Linked DNA regions of Homo sapiens: all the other regions are linked to region 1. The links come from fine-mapping of genetic effects on gene expression. A gene starts in region 1. Each other region holds a variant in brackets. All regions are shown on one strand. Distances are between the middles of the regions.

Region 1 (5,151 bases):
GAACTATAAAGTAAATAAACAAGAACTGGAAAGAATGGAAAAGTGTTTGTCAGGGTAATGGGATTTTTGCTTTTCCCTTTGCGTGCAAGTGTGTTTTGGTATCCCACCACAACCAGTGTTTACTCCATGCCCACGCAACAGTTTTTCATTCAAGCTTCATAACACAGCAGCATTGATATTATCTGCATTCTGTAGATGAACAAATGTAAGTCAATAAGGGGGAAAAAAAAATCCAGGACAATGGTCACACAGGAAATAAACTGCCACACTGGACCCCTTATCCAGGCATGCCTTTCCTCTGTCCCTATGGAATTCACAAGGAAGTCCCTTCTGCTTGCCTCAAATCAGTAGTTTGGTTATTACAATTTTGTTCCGTCTTTTAAACTGCAGTTATCTAAACTGAAAGACAAAGAGGTGATAGCCCAGGAACAAACTGAAAAGACTGAGGAATATAGGAGGGGATGTGTGTCTAATCAGATGCGACTGAACTCAGTATGACTTAAAGCAGCCGTTCACAAACATTGATTTTAGGAACTCTTTGCACTGTTAAGAATTATGAGGTCCCAGCACTTTGGGAGACCGAGGCAGGCGGATCGCTTGAGGTCAGAAGTTCAAGACCAGCCTGGCCAACACGGTGAAACCCCATCTCTACTAAAAATACAAAAAATTAGCCAGGCGTGGTGGTGGGTGCCTGTAATCTCAGCTACTCCGGAGGCTGAGACAGGAGAATCGCTTGAACCCAGGAGGTGGAGGTTGCAGTGAGCTGAGATCACACCACAGCACTCCAGCCTGGACAACAGAGTCAGACTCCGTCTCAAAAAAAAAAAATTATGAGGTCCCCAAAGAGCTTTTATTTGGGTGGGTTATATCCACTGATATTTCCCGTATTAGAAATTAAAACAGAAAAGTTTTCAAATGTTTATTAATTCATTTGAAAATAACTAATAAATCTATTAGTGTATTTTATGAAAATAACTATTTTCCAAAACAAAAAAAGTTAGCAAGAAGAGTAGCATCGTTCTATATTTTTACAAATCCCTTTACTGTCTGTCTTAATAGAAAGCAGCTGTATTCTCATGTCTGCTTCTATATTTTTTCTGCTGGAATACTACACATCATGTGGTCTCTGGAAACTGCCACTGTACATTAGTGAGAGAATGAGAGTGAAAAAGCTAATAACTTTTTTTGTATTACTATAAAAACAGTTTGTACTCATGAACCGCCTGAAATGCTCTTGGGTCCCCCCAGGGCTCCCTGTACCACACTTTGAGAACCATAACTTAAAGAACTATGTATGAGAGAGAGGGAAAGAGAAGTCGGCGAGACACTGATGGATATACCCACCATCCCACACTTCTCACTTTTCAACTTTCAAACGCCCCCAACTCCCCACTAGGTAACCTCAGTGCAGGAACCCCAGATTCTCCAAGGACAGCCTGACGTTCACTCAAGCCATCTCCTTCCCTCTCATTTCCGCAAAATAAATTAAACGAGGGCTAAGTGGGCATGGCTAACCAATTAATCCTCCACGGGCACATACTGACATTTTTAATAGGGCCTTTCTTAAGCTAGAACTCCAAAGCATGCCTCCAACTGGGCTTTTCAGACTGCTTGAAATGGGTATGAGAAAGAGAGCCCACAGGAGACACGAATGCCGAGTTCTGGTCCTGACTGTCCGGTGACTGAACCATCTCTCTATCTCCAGTGCAGCTCAAGCACTCAACCCTCTGCCTGCTTCTCAGGGCTGTCCTGGCATCGGATGACATCGAGGACCTGAGTTCTTCTTATAACCAAACCGCCCCGCTGAAGCTGCCCATTCCGCACACCTGCACTCCGAGGGGGTCCTGTAAGCCTGTCCCACCCCGACGCCCAGACACGCCCTGGACAGGGCCACTCCATCCCTGTGCGCCCATCCCATCGCGGTTTTCTGTCCCCTTCTCCCCACCAAGGGTGGGACATCGCGGGGCGGGGACTCAAGAAACAGGTTCAACAAACCAGCAAGGCCGATCTTCCAGCCACACGGTCTTCGTAGACACCGCGCCTGTCACCGCGGGGCCCAGCCCTGCACCCGACTCTTCGTGGGGGAGGGAGCTCGGGAGGAGAGGGCACCTCTCAGGGGGCCGAAGAGGTCGGCGGCGGCCGGCTGCGCCCACACACCTGGGGAGGGGAGCCCGTCACCTGCGGCGAGGCAGGGACCCGCCTCTCAGGCGCGGCGCACACCCCACCTCGCCCTCGCCAGGGCGTTGTCCGCAGCGACGCTCCGGGGACCGAGGGGACACGCTCGGCGGCTTCGGGGGCGCGGGCAGGGGCGACGGCCGCAGCGCGGTACCTTTGCCGGAAGAGCGGGCGCCGCCGAGGAGTCCGCGCAGCTCGTTCTTGAGGCTCCAGAAGTCGCCGTCCAGGTAGCGGTGCAGGGAGGAGTCCCCGAGCCCCAGACCCGGCGCCGGCTGCATCGCGCTCACCTGCCTCTGCTTCTCCGCGTGGCTGGCAGGGCCGGCTTCGCTCCGCGCCTCCTCCAGCTCCCAGCAGGTGAGGCCCCAGGCGCACGCCCTCTCCCTCTCCACCCCTCCCGGCCCGTCTCCTCCCTCCTCACCTTCCTCTCCCCTCCCTCCCCGGCCCCGCCCTGCCCTGGCTTCCCGGGCGGGAGGTCCGGCGCGAGCGGGCGCTTCTACGGTGGCCTCCCCTTGCCCTTCCGAGGAAGCGAAAACTCTACCCTCCAGTTATCAACTGTCCCTCAAGATTTGTGAGCCGTAAGAAACAAGTACTAGACCCCTAGAAAGGGTGCCAGTCACGTGGACCTGGGCACCAGAGGCCCGGCTGCTCAGGACTGACCGGCTGACCCACTCAGCAGATCTCCCGGCCAGCCACTTTGCCTGACCCCCACGACCCAAGATAGCCTGGCTCCAGCTCTGGCCCCTCCTCAGCTGTATCTCACCTCTTCCCCGCACTGGGCATTACTGTGAACTCTAATATCACGGTAATCTAAAGGCGTCCCAGGTCTACAGCACTGCAGTCCAGGGTAGCTGGAAGCTGCATTCATGACGAGGTGATCGACCGGAACACGATACTCATTTCCCAGGACACTCCTTTTTTTGTTGTGGCTGGAGGAAAATGAGTTATAACCTAAGTGGAAAATGTTCCTTCCTTTCTGCTCCCTAATTCTCATATACCTTGTTGATTCTCCTTTTAAATACTCAAGGAAATGTTAGCCGTTCCCTTCCAGAGGCTACTTTGCTGGGGAGATGATGGTGTGGTCTGCTGTCGTGAGGTTAGTGGATGCCATCTGTATTCGTTTCCAGTAACAAATTCCCACAAAGTGAGTGGCTTAAGATAGCACCAATTTATTCTCTTACATTTCTGGAAGTCAGAAGTCCAAAATAGGACTTACAGGGTTAAAATCAAGGTGTTGGCAGAGCTGGGTTCCTTCTCACAGCTCCAGGGAAAAATGCATTTCCTTGTCTTTACTAGCTCCTAGAGGCTGCCTGCATTTCTTAGCTCCTGGCCCCTTCGTCTGTCTTCAAAATGCATCACTTCAAGCTCTGCTTTCATCGTTCCATCTTCTACTGACTTTGACCTTCTTGCCTCCCTTGGACTTGTTTACATGGGACCCATGGGAATAATCCATGGTCAATGGGAATAATCTTCCCACCACAAGATCCATACTTTAATCACACCAGCAATGTCCATTTTGCCATATCAGAAACACACTCTCCGGTACTAGGGATTAAAACATGAGCACCTTTGGCGAGTCATTCCTCTGTCTACCACACCTGTGCAGCTGCGAGTAATAATACCCAGTCATCCATGATAAAAGGGGCTTTGTTTTCTCACATCACAGGAAGCTTGGTGGTAGGAAAGCCCCAGGGGTGAATTTGATGGCTCTACCCTGGGGACCCAGGTCCTTTGCATCTTTCTGCTCCACCATCCGCCATCCTTTCTCTATATGTAATCGTTACCTTTTTTTTTTTAACTTGTCTTCTACCAGTTGTAAGATGGATGCTGCAGCTCCAAGCACCACCCTGTGCAAAGCAGAAGAGGAGTATTTCCTTCTATATCAGCCAAAATAGTGTAGTGGTAACAAACAACCCCGAAACGACTTCACATACACTTCCTCAAATCTTAGGGCCTAAAAAGACAAGAGTTTATTTCTCACTCATGCTACCTGGGGGTTCTGTTCCATGTCCCCTCGGTCCAGGTCCTGGCTGACAGAACAGCCATGATTGTGTGGCCACACTGGCTTTTAAAGCTTCCAGCTGGAAGAGACACACATAACTTCTACTCACAATCCACTGGACAAAGCAGCTCACTCCTGTCTCGATGGGGGAAGGGAGGTACCACCCTGGACATGCCCAGGAGGTCAACACCCAAAATCATCTGTAAGCAGAGCTAGTGACTATTCAATCTGCCCTTCTGGTCACACTCTCCCTTCCACAGGCAAAATATACTCTCCATCCTTCCAGGGAAGCAGCCAAAGCCCCACACCTCCACAACATCAAGTCTGAGGCCCCTGGGGGATACAGAGTGGTCCTTGCATCAAGTCAGGATGTGGCTCCTCTTGATCCGGAGACCTATAAACTGAAAAGATAGGTTACTAAGTTAACTTCCAAGTGAGTGTTTGCTTGAGTGAGAAAAAAGAAAGGCCTCTGTTCTTAGAAGCCACTAAGATTTTTGTTGTTGTTGTTGTTGTTTCTTGACGTGGAGTTTTGCTCTTGTTGCCCAGGCTGGAGTGCAATGGCATGATCTTGGCTCACTGCAACCTCTGCCTCCTGGGTTCAAGCGATTCTCCTGTCTCAGCCTCCTGAGTAGCTGGGATTACAGGTGCCCGCCACCAAGCCTGGCAATTTTTTGTATTTTTAGTGGAGACACGGTTTCACCATGTTGGCCAGGCTGGTCTCAAACTCCTGACCTCAGGTGATTGTGATCCACCCACCTCGACCTCCCGAAGTGCTGGGTTTACAGGCATGAGCCACCGCACCCGGCCAACCACTAAGATTTTTTTTGAGGGTCATTTGTTACGTAGCCAATCATAGAAGATACTAAAAGAATGTTGCTGATTAAATAAAAAACTAAAATAGGTACATTGGCTTAGAGGCTGGGAGGGGCAAGGAGGATGCTGTCGACCAAAGCATTGTTGTTGACCAAAATTGAAAA
Region 2 (5,151 bases), 320 kb before region 1:
TGAGGCCACACAGTCTGCAGAAACCAACAGGTAAGACACAAAATACTGAACGCCACTGGAGGTCACGCAAATTCCAGGAAACCTCAGGCCATCTTAGCCTTCCTCTCCCAACCCCAATCTGTTAGTTTCTAACCGAATGTGCTAGAGAAGCCAGCCAGAGCACCATGAAAGTCAGCAAGAAGGTGAAATGGTGAGAGGAGGAGGGGCCTTTGGTTACATCTCTTTTCACCTCTCACTCTAGATGTGAAGAAACTCAGAGGGGGCTGCGGCATCCCAAGTCGGGGAGGCCATGAGGACCACTAGAAGCAGGCCTGGAGGTGTGGTCTCTGGGGCTGGGCTCTGTCGCTGCCCTCTGTACCCCAAAATGCCTCTGAGATGCCCATGTAACCTCCAGGGGAGCCCAGGAGCTTCACCTCCTGCAAATGGGGAGAGATGGACAGTAGGAGAAGAACAAGAGAGAAGCAAGAAGCAAATGGTAGGAGAAAACACAGGATAGAGGGAAGAAAGACCAAAGGCCGGTGAGCAGAGAAAAGAGGTGAGCATCCAGGGCCCAAGAGCTGCTTCAAGGTCATGGAAAGCCAGCCTGCACCTGGAAGGAAAGGTCCTTGCAGAATAGAACTTAAAGCAGGAAACAGAGAATTAAGCGTGGCAAACAAGAAACGCCCATGTGCCTGAATCTATATCATTCTAAGTCAGTGTATCAGACGCCCAGGACTCTGAAAAATCAGGGTTCCCAGACAAACCCAACACTTGGTATGAGCAGCGCTTCTTTATTATAAAACTAACATCACTGAAAGCTTTTTTTTTTTTAAAGACCAAAAATATCACATCTTAGGCAAATGAGTTGAAAATCCCTCAGAGTGACACCCTATTTTTTTTCCACCCATTTCTAAAGTCAGAGGACACCTGGTAAAGAAGCTGGTTTTTAGATAAAGAAATGCAATTCCTGGTGCACGCGGTTTCCTGGTGGTACAGCACTGAAGTGACATCATGGAAATATTTGTACCTCAAGGTCAGTCTGCAAGGTTTCTGTGTGAAAGCATGAGTCTTAGTGGTGGGAAAGTATGTGTGTGCACCTTTGTGATCTGCTGCTGTTTACTGCTCTCTGCTTCAAAGACAAAGTTTTAATTAAATCCAGGTGGGCAGCTTGCCAGGGTTTTCCACACTTTTGGCTCACCTAGGTAGGCAGCCTAAGTGCAGGTTATACCATTTGGAAATGCCTCTGCTCCTGTCACTTGGAAGGAAATAAAACAACTGTTCCTTGGGGCGGGGGGTTGGGGGGAAGAAGCTTGTCTTCCACTCAAGGGCAAGGAATCTATGACATAAGATGCTCATTCTGGTGGTGAATATGAACAGTCTAATTTGTGTAGCATTCCTTAAGGTGCCAAAAGTAGGAAGCAGCAGACTGGGAACGTATGGAATCCTTTGTCTTAATTAAAAATATAGTGGGAGATGTGGAATTTGGCCAAGCCTCATAAATCTGCTAAAAAAGCATCAAGACTCCATCAGATAAGTTTAAATAGAACCAACTGAGCCCTCTGGAGAGTTAAACAGATTCCCCACTCATGTGGACACCCACTCTCCTGTCACTTTCCCGCACTCCGCAGGCAGCAGTGGTGCTCGTTAACCAGCAACCCTCCAATTCGCCTATGACAAGCTTATCCCCCTGGAGCACACGATTCAGACATGATAAATTTACTCCCGCTTGTAAAAATGAAACTCTCCTCAGGGCAATAAAAACGCTCTGAGCCTTTAGGAAATAAGTTCTTTATCTGATAACCTACCTTCATTAACAAAGTCTGGTCCTCTTGGTCAGGACAGCTCTTCACTGCTAGGGAGAACTGCTCTAAGGTAACTGGAAGGGAAGAAATGGAAATTGTGAATGACTTCACTTCCGCCTCAGAGCCCTTCTGATGTGAAGGAGGACACTGTGGTTATAACAGACGTAAACAGCATGCTGTCCGTCCTTCCTTGGTGACATGGCAGAGCTCCCCAACTGTCCCCTGCATGGGTCAGGGGCCCCCGTACAGTGACTTCTCCACCCCATCAGACAGAGTCATTACAGTAGAGTACAAGGCCATTCCCATCAGCAAAGCTCCTCCCTAAACTGCCAGGAGGTCCTGGGTTCAGCTTCCTTTTGGGTCATCTTGTCCCCAGAGATGACACTCTATCTCCATTTCCTGGGACCTTCATTGAGAAGACTCCACCTGCCTTTGTAAATTTGACAGTGCTAATTTAAAAAATCTCAATCTTCCATCATGATTTCCATGGCTTTAACTCTTCTCTTGGTGTATGGCCCCAAGTGTTGACTCAAACCCCACAAACTCCCCCAAATATATAAAGTCGTCTTTCTCCAACCAACCTTCTCAAGGAGAATAGGGAAGAGAAACCCAAGAAGAT[T/C]TACGAGAAAAAAAAAAAGTTTTAGTAATCCATTGAAATTGGCCATGAAAGCTCTAGGAATATTAATCTAGAAAATTTACAAAATTACATTCCCCTTCTCATATTTATGGCCAGGTTCTCATCAAAGGCTCACTTATGTGGTGACCAATTTTTATTTTGGTGTAAGTCACAGACTGCCCTCCTGTAGGCTGTGTTGACTACATTGTTTCATGCTTGAAAATGCTCCCACAATTCTCTGCCACCCTCAGATTTAAAACCACTTATTTGACACGCATTAAGGCTTTTACTAAGTTAACCCAACTAGTTTAGCCTTTGATTGCTATACTCAAAGCTGCGTTCACTCTTTACCCTCTATGACCTTTCATTGCTCTCTGCTGGGAAGAGTTCTGCCTCTTGTCTTTGAGTAGAGCAAAACTCAGTCCTCCAACTGAACATCCCAAGCCCACCCATCCAGCCAATAAAGACATTGATTGCCCTCTGGTCCCATCCCAACTCCCGCAGATCCCACAAAGGTGGGCAGAGCTAAACTCAGCCTCAAGGCTGAGGGACAGTCTGATTCCAATGATTTGACCTCAAGCATGCCTGGATGTCATGTCTACAAATACAGATATTTTAAAGAGAACTATATCAGCAATGATGAATTTTCATCAAGAAAATATTGTCTGGGTAGGTTGTTTGTAGTTTTCAATGTTACTCTAAAATAGAATTCCTTAGACTGCTTTCATCTCTGACTAAATTACTCCATGCCATCTTGACTGCTATCAGTTGTATCTGGTGCTGATTATTTCTTCCAAGTTTAAATTTTGCTCTATCCAGTCAAGACATACTTGGGATCCATAGAGAGATCAATGTTGCCTTCCACATGCTCTCCAATGCATATACCCACCCAGTCTTCAATTGGCAGAAACCAGTGTTAATTACATAGAATCATCAATTTAATCTTTTTTAAAAATTAACTTTGCCTATAAAAGTGGCTCAGCAGAAACTTGTACATTGAGATAAGGGCCCAAGCTGTGTTAAGTTTACACGAATGCTTTTGCTGTCACTCATTCAGAATACACCTGCCTGGGAAAGACCCTGGAGGCAAGACCTCTCTCCCTCAACTCCGTCCTCAGTTTTGGACTTTTGCTGTGATCTGATTTGGTGTGATAACATATTGATCTCTGACTACTGTCTGAGGATGGCTAAAGAATAATCTACAAATTCAGGTGCTAGGTTTTCTTTAGATCACCTTTTTAAGGTGGCTATTTTATTTGGTAAAGGTTTATGCTGTAACTTAGAATCTTACTTAGTGCAGGTCAGGGAAATTGAAACACTTGCTTCCTTAGAGAGCTACTGGATTCTCACTGACAGCTCTCTCCTCTCTGTGGTGACCCTGTGTTCATACTTCTCACTGCCTGTGCACTGGACTCCACTATGATACTTTTCGTTATCATAGACATAGCACCCACTTCAAGTTACCTTGAACTCTGTACATCCAATCCAAACCAGTCAACTTCCATACCAAGCCAGCCCTTTCCAACTTTTTCCCATTTCTGTGGGACTATCATCCTCCAGCCACCAGGCCACTGAGCCTGATTCTTTGATTTCTCCCTCAGGACCCCATGCCTGCTGACTCTTGTACGATGATGTCCCTTGGATGCACCACTTTCCCACAGTAGTGCTGCCACTTTGATTTCTGGAGAACTTCTCGCTCTTTCCCAGCCTCCATGCCCACTGCTGCCACCACTCTGAGCCTGGCCCTGCTGGAGCCCTATGCCTATGGCCTGCATTCCTCCTCACCACACCAGGCCTAGCCCCTCTTCCCCGTGCAAACCACCCTGATGGCTCCTGACTCTCATTCATGCAGGGTTCCATCTTGGGCCATGCACTCCCTCCCTGTCTCCTCAGGTTGGCCAGGATCCCACCTGATATGGTTTGGTTGTATCCCCACTCAAATCTCATCTTGAATTGTAGCTCCCATAATCTCCGCATGTCACGGGAGGGGACACAGTGGGAGGTAAATGAATCATGGGGGTGGTTACCCTCCATACTGTTCTCATGATAGTGAGTTCTCATGAGATCTGATGGTTTTATACAGGGCATTTCCCCCTTTTGCTCGGCACTTTTCCTTCCTGCCACCATGTGAAGAAGGACGTGTTTGCTTCCCTTTCTGCCATGATTGTAAGTTTCTTGAGGCCTCCCCAACCCTGCAGAACTGTGAGTCAATTAAACCTCTTTCCTTCATAAATTACCCAGTCTTGGGTATGTCTTTATTAGCAGCATGAGAAAGAACTAATATACCACCCTTCTCCAGGGCCAGCATGGGGAGTAGTCTCAACACAGGTTTGGCATCAGACAGACCTGACTTTAAATCTTCCCTCTGCCACTTCCAGCTGTGTGTCCTTAGACAAGTCACACAGCCTTGCTGAGCCTCGCTTCCTCATCAGTGACGTGTGGAGCCCGGAGCCCACTTGCTGGAGCAGGTGTGAGGCTGTGTGTAAAGAAACGGTGCTGGCAGTGAGTCTGCACTCCATCTTAGGTTCCTGTACAAAGATTTCTCTAAGTCTCCCCTGTTCCCTGTTCGATGCCTTGATGTGACACATGACACATGGAGTTTTTCCTTCCCAATCAGTCTCTAGTGTTTAGATGTCCGGGCTGCCCTGGCCTCAGGAGAGGGTGCAGGAGATGGGCTTGGATCCTATCCCAGACTCTGTCCTGTCCCCATGATGTCCAGCATGCCCACAGCCATGACCCCGTTTTGTGGAACTG
Region 3 (5,151 bases), 23 kb after region 1:
GACCAGCAGGGTGAGGAGGGAAAATGGTCGCAGCAGTGTTGCTCCTGTAGAATGGAGAGGTGGCTTTCCCCCAGGAATGAGACATCTGGCCAAAGGTATTGGGGGCAGCGTTGTGACAGGGAGGCAGAGATCAAGCCTACGTGGAGTGTGATGCTGTGCTGCTCTGGCCTAAGGTGTGCAGCGTCTCCAAGGACACTGCTCAGCTCCCTTAGTATCAGGGCAACTGCACCAGGCTCAAGCCAGAGAGCTCCAAGAAGGGCCAAATTTCAGAATGGACTCAAGACTGCTGCCTTTCCACTGTCATCACTGCCCAGACTCCACTCAGACAATCTCAAGAGATTCCTTTAGAGCTCAGGTGCTTCCTTGTCTTCCCATTTATTTAGGGATTTCTACCCAGAGGGTCAGAAATTAACAGAAAGCCCAACTTCACTGCAACAAGGGGAAATAGGAATTTTGCTATTTTCTGATCATGGACAAATGCAGTCAGTTGTTTGATGCCAGGAAAATTCATCTGCTACTAAATCTCTACATATATATGACTTCATTTTTTCAGTTTTCTTTGCTTCAAAGGATGTTTATTTAAGTTATATTTGTACGCTCTCCCCCTAAGACATACAGAACACTGCGCAACTGTGAACTGTACTTAAGTAGGCATTTCATATTCCATTTTTACGGTAACCCCTTGCAGGGAAAGAGTCAGTGCAGCAAATCTGTTTTGCTCAATTCTAGCTTATCTCTGAGGATGTCTGGAGCCAGGATCTAAGAACTAAACCTTGGAATGTTCACAAATGATGTCATTCTGTGCCCAGCACATTGGGGTAGGACATACTAAACCATCAACACCATTTAAAGCAAACATGAACCTCTATGATGTACACCTGGTGCCTGGTTTGAGGCTCACAACACGAGTGCTTGCGTAGCAGGTATGCACCAGAACTGTGCCTGAGTTCTCTGCTCTTCAAAGCTGGAAAGAAAACATGTGTGTGTGTAAGCCATGCAGAAGGACAAAAGCCTGTTCCTGAGCATTTTAGCCTTCACCTGTACGTGTATTTTTTTTTTTCTGTTCTGGCACTGTATCTTTTGCAATAAACCTTAGCGGTGAGTAGAATCTGATGCTGAGTTATGCAGGTTCTTCTAGTGAATTACTGAACCAGTGAGTAGTCATAGGCCCCCAGAACCTGCCTAATTTTCAAAGTAAAATTTTTAATTACTTGGAATGAAGTTCAATCCTAGATACTACCTAGGAACAGCAACCTCAAATATCTCATTACAGCTTTGCTGCTTTTAGAGTAAATAATCACAGAAACTTTTACCTCCCAGAGCCTATTAATTCCCCTCTCCACTTCTATTCTTCTTAATAACAATCACATATATACTGATAGGAATCACTGGTTATTTTGAAGACATATAAGTGGTAAGGAACCCAGTTCCACCTCCTCCCACAGTAACAAAATAAAGGAGGAAGCAAAGATATATAGGAGCAAAAGTTTCGTGCACTATCAAGAATAAATTGAGGCTGGGTGCGGTGGCTCACACCTGCAATCCCAGCACTTTGGGAGGCTCAGGCAGGCAGACCACTTGATGTCAGGAGTTCAAGACCAGCCTGGCCAACATGGTGAAACTCTGTCCCTACCAAAAAATACAAAAATTAGCCAAGCATGGTGGCACGCACCTGTAGTACCAGCTACTCGCCCAGCTGAGGTGGGAGAATTGCTTGAACCCAGGAAGCGGAGGCTTCAGTGAGCCACGATCGCACCACTGCACTCCAGTCAAGACCCTGTCTCAAAAAATTTGTAAAAAAGGAAAAATTGATATTAATTTCATCCAGATTGTTATAAATTATGTTAGTCGTAACCCCCAGGGCAAACACTAAGAAAATGACTAAAAATATATAGTAAAAGAAATGAAAATGGAATCAAAATGGTACTGTAAAAAATATCTTTCTGTGTACACTGACAGACAACACCAAAAAAAGAAATAAAATATATTTTTAATACAAAAGAAGGGAATAACAGGAACTGAGGAACAAAAAATATGTAAGACATTTAGAAAACAAAAATAAAATGCAGAAGTAATGATCAGTAATCACGTTAAATAAAAATAGATTAAACTCTTCATTTAAAAACCAGATATTGGCAGAATGGGTGAACATTTCCCAATTATACCCCAGCTACAAGATACTCATTTTTGTTTCAAGTCACACATAGGTTGAAAATGAGAGGACACAAAAAGATATTCCATGAAAATAGTAACCCAAAGAGAGCTGGAGTGGCTACTAATGTCAGACAAAATAGACTTTAAGACAAAAATTGTTACAAGAGGCAAGGAGGGCATTTATATAATGATAAAAGGGTCAATTTATTAAGATATATAACAGGTATAAACATATGCACTCAATAACAGAGTCTCAAAATATATGAAGCAAAAACTAACAGAATTGAAGTGAGAAATAGACAGTTAAATAATAAAAGTTGAAAAATTCAACACCCTCCTTTCAATAATGAATAGAACAACTAACCATGGCCAGGTGCAGTGGCTCACACCTGTAATCCCAGCACTTTGGGAGGCCGAGGTGGGTGGATCACTTAAGGTCAGGAGTTTGAGACCAGCCTGGCCAACATGGTGAAACCCCGTCTCAACTAAAAATACAGAAATTAGTCGGGTGTGGGGGCGGGTGCCCATAATCCCAGCTACTCGGGAGGCTGAGGCAAGAGAATCGCTTGAACCCGAGAGGCAGAAGTTGCAGTGAGCCGAGATTGCATCACTGCACTTCAGCCTGGGTGACGTGACAAAGCAAGACTCCATCTAAAAAAA[A/C]AAAAAAAAAGAAGAACAGCTAAAGAAATGATAAACAAGGAAACAGAAGACTTGAACAACACTTTAAACCAACTGAATTGAACAGACATATATATAGCATTTCACTAAACAACAGCAAAACATACATTATTTTCAAGTGCTAATGGAACAACTTCCAGGATGACCATAGGTTAATCCACAAATGAAGCCTCAATAAGTGTAAAACAAGTGAAGGCATACAAAGTATCTTCTTTGACACAATGGAATAAACTTAGAAATCAATAGCAGAAGGAAATTTAGAAAATTCAGAAATTTGTGGAAATTAAATGGCACACTCTTAAATAACTGATGGATCAAAAAGAAATAACAAGAGAAAATTGAAAATACTTTCAGAAAAACAAAACATTCCCAAACCTATGAGATGCAGCAAAGGCAGCAGGCAGAGAGAAATGTATGGCTGTAAGTGCCCACATTGAAAAGAAAAAAGATTCAAATCAACTGAACTTCAACCTTAAGGAACTAGAAAAAGGAAAGCAATTAAACCCAAAGAGCAGAAGGGGAAAAAATAACAAAGACTGGAGCAGGGATAAATGAAATAGAAGACAGAAAAATGATGGAAAGAATCAACAAAACCAAACGTTTATTCTTGGAAAAGATTGATAAAATAGGCAAATTTGGCTGGCAAAATGTGGTGGCTCACAACTGCATTCCCAGAACTTTGGGTGGCTGAGGTAGGAGGATTGCTTGAGGCCAGGAGTTTGACACCAGACTGGGCAACATAGTGAGACCCCATCTCTACTTTAAAAAATGAAGACAAACTTTTAGCTAGACTGATTAAAAGAGAGAGAGAGTGAGAGACAGAGAGAGAGAGAGAGAAGAAAAAAATCAAGAATTAAAGTGGAGACTTTACTACCATCCTAACAGAAATCAAAAGAATTACAAGAGAGTGCTATGAACAATTGCATGCCAACAAAATAGATAACAGATGAAATTGACAAATTCCTAGAAACACACAAAACTAGTCAAACTGACAGAAGAAAAAAAAATAAGCAATCTGAATACAACAGATGAAGAGACTGAATTGGTAATTTAAAAAATCTTCCAACAAAGAAAAGCCCAAGGCCAGATTGCTTCATAGCAGATTTCTACCAAACATTTATAGAGGAATTGATGCCAATCCATCTCAAATTCTTCCAAAATTTGGAAGAAAAAAGACCACTTCTTCATTCTATGAGGCAAGTATTTCCCTGATACCAAAGCCAGACAAAGACATCACAAAGATGAAAACTGGCAACCAATATCCCTTATGAATACAGAGGCAAAAATCCTCAATAAAATACAAATAATCTGAATCCAGCAGCATATTAAAAAATTGTATATGAGATATATCCCTTGAGTGCAAGAGTGAGTCAACATATGAAAATCAGTCAATATAATACATCGTTTTAATAGAATGAAGAAAAAACTCCACATGATCATCCCAACTCAACAGATATAGGAAAAAAGCATTTGATGAAATCCATCCTGCTTTCATAATAAGAAACAAAACAAAATACTCAACAAACTAGGGAACTTTCTCAACCCAATAAAGGGAAGCCATGAAAAACCCACAGCTAACATCATTCTTAATAGTGAATACCTGAAAGCTTTCACCCTAATATCAGGAACATGACATGGATGTCTGCTCACATTACTGTTATTTAACATTTTATTGAACTGTCTAGCCAGGACAATTAGGCAAGAAAAAGAAATAAAAGTCACCCAACTTGTAAAGAGAGAAGTAAAACTATAACTATTTGCAGATGATACCATTTTTTTTTTCTTTTTGAGGCAGAGTCTCATTCTATTGCCCAAGCTGGAGTGCAGTTGCAGTGGTGTAGTCACAGATCACTATAACCTCAAACTCCTGGGCTCAAGTGATCCTCCTGCCTCAGCCTTCTGAGTAGCTAGGACTATAGGTACATATCACCTTCCCCAGCTAATTTTTAATTTTTTGTAGCAATGGGGTCTTGCTATGTTGCCCCAGCTTGATGTAATATTATATATAGGAAATATTAATCAGTCACAAAACTATTAGAGCTAATAAATAAATTCAGCAAAGCAGCAGGTTACAAAATCAATATACAAAATCTACTGTATTTTATATACCATTCCAAAAATGAAATTTAAGAAAACAATTCAATTTATAAAACCATCAAAAAGAATAAGATACTTTTATGAATAAATCTAACCAAAAAGCAAGACTTGTGCACTGAAAACTACAAAACATTGTTGAAAGAAATCAAATACCTAAATAAATGAAACAAATCCTGTGCTACTAATTTGGAAGGCTTAATATTGTTACGATGGCAATATTCC
Region 4 (5,151 bases), 290 kb before region 1:
ACCTTGGTTTAGATTTTGTGAGATAAGACACAAATTTTGAATGTTTTCAAAATTTAAATACACTGTGAAGCAAATGAAAAGGCAGGTAATGGATGAGGCAAAAATCTATGCAATCTCATATAATAAAGGATTTCTGTACAGAATTTGTAAAGACATCTACAGCTCAGTCACAGGAAAACAAAACCCAGTTTAACAGATGGACAGAAAATCTGAACACACACTTCACCAAAGAAGACAAAATGAATAGCAAATAAACACATGAAGAAGATCTGAGAAACGCAGATTAAGACCACAATGAGAAGGTACTACGCACCCACTAAAATGGCTAAAATGAGTAAGACTTGCAAAACCGAGTATTGGTGAGGATGTGGAGCAACTAAAATCATTGCTGATGGGAGTGTAAAATGTTACAGCCACTTTAGAAACAGCTGGGCAATTTCTGATTAAGTTAAACCTATACCTATAGAAGAACCCAGCCATTCCACCCCTCGGTATTTACACAAGATAAACAAAAACATATGTCCACATAAAGTCACATATAAAATTGTTCACAGAAGCTTTATTCATAATAGCCAACACGGGAAGCAGTGCGTACATCTACCACCTGCTTAATGGGTAAACAAATTGTATACACCTACACAAACGAATACCACTTCACAATAAAGAGGAACAAACCTAAGCTGTTCCATTTCTATTAAATTATAGAAAAGGCAAATTTACAATGAAAGAAAGATAAGTAGTTTCCAGGAGTTGGGGATGGGGAAGGGATTGACTGCAAAGTTGCACAAAGGAACTTTGTGGGTGACAGAAATGTCCTATATCCAGATGCTAGTGGTGGTTATATGACATATGCATTTGTCAAAACTGGTTAGTTGTACATTTAAAATTGGTTAATTTTAATTCATGTAAATTATATGTAATATATATTATTATACATTTATATATTATATAATTTTTATATATAAAAATGGATTTCTTTTTTTTTAAATCTCACCTCCCCATACTCCCTAGCCGCTAGGGTTAGACATGTAACCTCCCTTGCCAATGAGAACAGGCAGTTGTCTACCGGGAAGCTCCTCTGTAAAAGCTACTGTTTTCCTGATAACAAGATACCGCCTTTTTCTCTTTGTCCTTTCTGCACCTACCTGCTTGGAACTCAGCCACCATGTGACCTTGAGAACAGTTTTAAAGGCTGCACTATGGAGGTATATTGGTTCCCTAGGGCTGCTGTAACTCCTTACCACAATCCTAGTGGCTAAAAACAGAAATGTATTCTCTCGCAGTTCTGGAGGCTAGAAGTCTGAAATCAAGGTGTCAGCAGTTCCATGCCACCTCTGAAGGTTCTTTCTTTCCTCTTCTGGCTTCTGGTGGTTGCCAGTGGTCTCCAACATTCCTTGGCTTGCAGCTGCTTCACTCCCATTGCTGCCTCCACCAGCATAAAGCCTTCTTCCATGAGTCTCTGCTCTTCTTATAAAGACAGCAGTCATATTGGGTTAAAGCCCACCCTACTCCAGTGTGACCTAATTTGATTCCATCTGCAAAGACCCTATTTCCAACAGGGTCACATTCACAGGTACTGCGGGTTAGGACTTGAACATATCTTTTTCAAGGACAGAATTCAATCTACAACCTGGGGACAGAGAGGACGGAGAGAGTAAGAGCCCTGGCCCTTCTTTGTCATGGAGCCACAGCCTGAGTCCTAGGCTGCCTACCTCTGTCTTCTCATTGGGGGAGAACAGCAAGCCCCTCTTTAGTTAAACCACAGCAGACAAGCACTTTAGCTGATACACTCTGCCTCCCCTAATTGTTAAAGGTGATCACAGTCCCTCCTTGACCTGTTCAACAGGAGGCCAGGGTGCCCAGCACTAGCAAAACACTGGGCCTGAGGTGGCAGTTCACTGAGTGAGTGAGTGCTCAGATTGTCCTTGCATGTTCTCTTGGCCCAGCCACCCACCTTCCACCATCGCAGCCTAGGAGTGTCCCTCCTCGGTCTGGGTGTCCTTGGTCTTCTCCCAACCACAGCATTTTAAGGCCCCTGTGGTGGCTTCCCCAGCTGTGACAGCTTCCCCAGCTGTGACAGCTTCAATTTCCCTGTCTGGCCCATGCCTTCCTCCAGCCCTGTGTTCTGTGCCCACTCTGCCCTCCAGCCACGCTGAGGGGCTCAGTGTCTCTCTTGGCAATTATCCTCCATCCTGCTCCATACCCAGGACCACCTAACGCTCAGCAGCATGCTCTGCATCTCACTATTTCCCATGGGGCCCCTTCTCCCACACGTCCCCACACCCATCCGGACCCACAGATGGCCCCTTCCTCATGCCAGCCTTCCAGCCCAATACCACTTCCACGGGCTACAGATGTCTCCCTGTAATCAAAAAATCCCATTTTTTGATTAAAACAGGATGAGCAGAAACCTGAGGGAGTGCACAATCCTCTGCAGAATGCATCAGGCCTTTCCAGTGCCATCATTTCTGCTTCCACCTTCTGAGTTCTTCAGGGTCCTGTCCAGGGCAGCGTTTAAAACATTCCTCCCCTTGTACCTAGCCCCAGATCCATTTGTATGTCCTTAGAGTGATTTGACCGTGCTTACTCCTAAATCTCCCCGCTCCCCTCTCATCTCCCTGTGCACAGAGGTGGCATCATCAGGAAAGAGTCCAGTCCTGATCAATAACTGCACTCCCACCTGGTAGACAGAA[G/A]GACGTCTCGGAGCCTGGATGTCAGCTTTTGCGACACACATCAGGTGCTGCCCCTCTCACATGACGCCCATCAGATATGGAGTTCAACAACAGACATGGAGTATGCAGCTACATTAAAATATTTTTATAGACAAGTAGAGGCCAACACTATGATTGCTTCCCCACTTTCTGCTCTTGGGGGTGAGCCCTGAACTGCCTAGCCAGTAACCACCTTGCAGAGTCACGGGAAATGTCGCAAGCCAGATCTTCCCAGGCCACAGAGTCTTTTTTCTTCCTCCTTCTCCTTCCTTTTCTTCTCTTTCCTTTCTGTAGTAAGTGTCGCCAGTGGCCTGGGCTTCCAGCGTGGTCACCTCCAACACAGTGGTACCTGCCCTCGCCTCCCTCTGCTGCAGGCCCCTAGGAGCCCTCCCTGCCTCCTGGTTGGCCCTGGCTGGGAGGTCTGGGGGCCCCTGGGGGTCCTGCCCACACCTCTCTGTGACTGCACTGGCTGATGTGGGCAGAACACGCGGCTGCCTTCCTCGGGGTCCCCAGAAGCACCTCCAGATGCCATTGCTTGCCTTGGGGGTATCCTGACAGATGTAAGCCCGCCCCTGCCTGTGCCAGGGGCAGGAAGGGACCATCCCTCATCTGCTCAGCCCCATCTCTATCTTCCTGTCTCTCTTCCGGTTTGACTTTCTTTCTTGTGTGTGCCTTTGTGTGTGTGTGTGTGTGTGTGTGTGTGAGGAGGGGTCTTTATATATTTGTCTGTCTTCCTGTATTTTTCTTTTTCTTTTTTTTGATATGGAGTTTCGCTCTTGTCACCTAGGCTGGAGTGCAGTGGAACGATCTCGGCTCACCACAACCACTGCCTCCTGGTTTCAAGCGATTCTCCAGCCTTGGCCTCCCAAGTAGCTGGGATTACAGGCGCCCACCACCATGCCTGGCTAATTTTTGTATTTGTTTAGTGGAGACAGGGTTTCACCATGTTGGCCAGTGTTGGTCAGGCTGGTCTTGAACTCCTGACCTCAGGTGATCTGCTCGCGTCGGCCTCCCAAAGTGCTGGGATTACAGGCATGAGCCACCACGTCCGGCCTTCCTATATTTTTCTTTCTGTATTACGTCTTTACAATTTTTTCTATTCTGTATTTTTTCATCTCTCTCTCTCTGGTCTAGATGAGTTCTGTCTTTTTTTCTGGGCTTACATAAGCACTTTTTTACTCTTCTATATTTTTAATTTTGCCGTGTTTTTCTGCCTTTCTGTATTCCTTGGTCCTTCCAAGTTTTTTCTTTTTTTTCTTTTTTACATTCCCCAGAAACAGATCTCGTTTTTATTTTTATTCCTGTATTTCTATCTCTTTTTCCTTGTGGTGTTCTCTCTTGTTTCCTGGGTTAATTCAAGTGTCTCAACTTCCACTCTTCTCTCATGTATTTGCACTCCAAATGATTCCTCCCTTTCATCTTTAGATATTTTCTCTATTAAACTTGGTTTCCTCTGCTTGGCTTTGGGAAGAGGGTCCTCCCCTCTCCACCCGCAGCCTCTCTTCCTGAGCTCTGAGATGCCCTCTTTCTGTACTGAAGGGCAGGTGTGGCAGGTCCTCAAGGAGAGTCTCCCAGAGAATAAGGGGGCTGGGCCCAGTAGCCAGCGGCTCACTGGTGGCTTCTGAGATGAGAATGTGGGATTCTTGGCACCTTTGCCCTAAGCTTTGAAACTGAGCTAGAATTCCAAGACAGCAGGGTAAACAAATCTCCCTCAACATCCTGCTACATATGAGAAAAAGGGAATATGGGAGAAAGGATACAGAGAGCACCCTGATGTCCACAGTTCCCAGCTTGTTTCCCACGGAGAAAGAGAAGTGCCCAGACAGGACTGTATCCCGGATTCGGGGGCCAGCTGCAGGATTCTTGTCTGGTCTCTGAGACCCAGTGAAATGCTGAGCCCAGGTCAGAGTTGAAGTACAAGGTGCTTTCCTCCACTGGCCCACTCCTCTACCCTTCGCCCCTGCCACCCTTGCCTGTCCCAGCCTCCTCTGCACCAGAATCTCCCTTTGCTCAGAATGTGGCAGGTGACAGTTCTGCAAGGTGGAGCAGGTGAAATAGTCCCTGTCTAGGGAGGCGTGCCCCTGAGGTGCAAGGCTGGAATTCACAACACATTTTCCTAGAAAAACACAATGCCAAAGTGATCGATGGCATTGATAATGCTATGAATGGGTCCAGCAACCAGGACATACTGAGCACCTTCCATGTTCCAAGCACTGCACTGAAGTGCTGTGTAAGAAAGACATTCTGCTTTTACAGAGGAGTCTCAGAAGAGTTCAACATCTGTCTCTAGGTCACACACTGGAACCCAAATAAATATGGCTCCAAAGAATACGATCTGTCTGGCCCTCCTGGTCCCCAGGCCCCAACACAGCTGGTTCAGCACAGCTGCATGAGAGCCCACATCATTGTTCACAAAGGGGGCTCCTAGCAGACTGTCTTG

Evidence for each region.
Region 2: its variant is fine-mapped to the expression of ACOXL in lung (TOPMed, PIP above 0.99).
Region 3: its variant is fine-mapped to the expression of ACOXL in whole blood (TOPMed, PIP above 0.99).
Region 4: its variant is fine-mapped to the expression of ACOXL in whole blood (TOPMed, PIP 0.92).

Annotation. Positions count from the first base shown.
Region 1 is chr2:110,729,953-110,735,103 of GRCh38, reverse strand. It overlaps ACOXL (acyl-CoA oxidase like), which reads right to left and starts at 2,531. Exons shown (of 18, transcript NM_001142807.4): 1 at 2,330-2,531. It overlaps LOC124906064 (a long non-coding RNA gene), which reads left to right and starts at 2,679. Exons shown (of 3, transcript XR_007087181.1): 1 at 2,679-2,750; 2 at 3,200-3,268; 3 at 3,469-3,743.
Region 2 is chr2:111,045,922-111,051,072 of GRCh38, reverse strand. It overlaps ACOXL (acyl-CoA oxidase like), which reads right to left. Exons shown (of 18, transcript NM_001142807.4): 16 at 1,785-1,855. LOC124907866 (a long non-coding RNA gene) reads left to right here and starts at 896. Exons shown (of 2, transcript XR_007087182.1): 1 at 896-1,012. RefSeq lists a silencer at 927-1,221 and an enhancer at 927-1,221. The variant T/C (reference allele first, on the strand shown) is at 2,401.
Region 3 is chr2:110,707,037-110,712,187 of GRCh38, reverse strand. No RefSeq gene overlaps it. Among named protein-coding and RNA genes, the nearest start is that of ACOXL, 23 kb to the left of the region's middle. The variant A/C (reference allele first, on the strand shown) is at 2,815.
Region 4 is chr2:111,020,685-111,025,835 of GRCh38, reverse strand. All of the region lies in intron 14 of ACOXL (acyl-CoA oxidase like), which reads right to left. Among named protein-coding and RNA genes, the nearest start is that of ACOXL-AS1, 92 kb to the left of the region's middle. The variant G/A (reference allele first, on the strand shown) is at 2,694.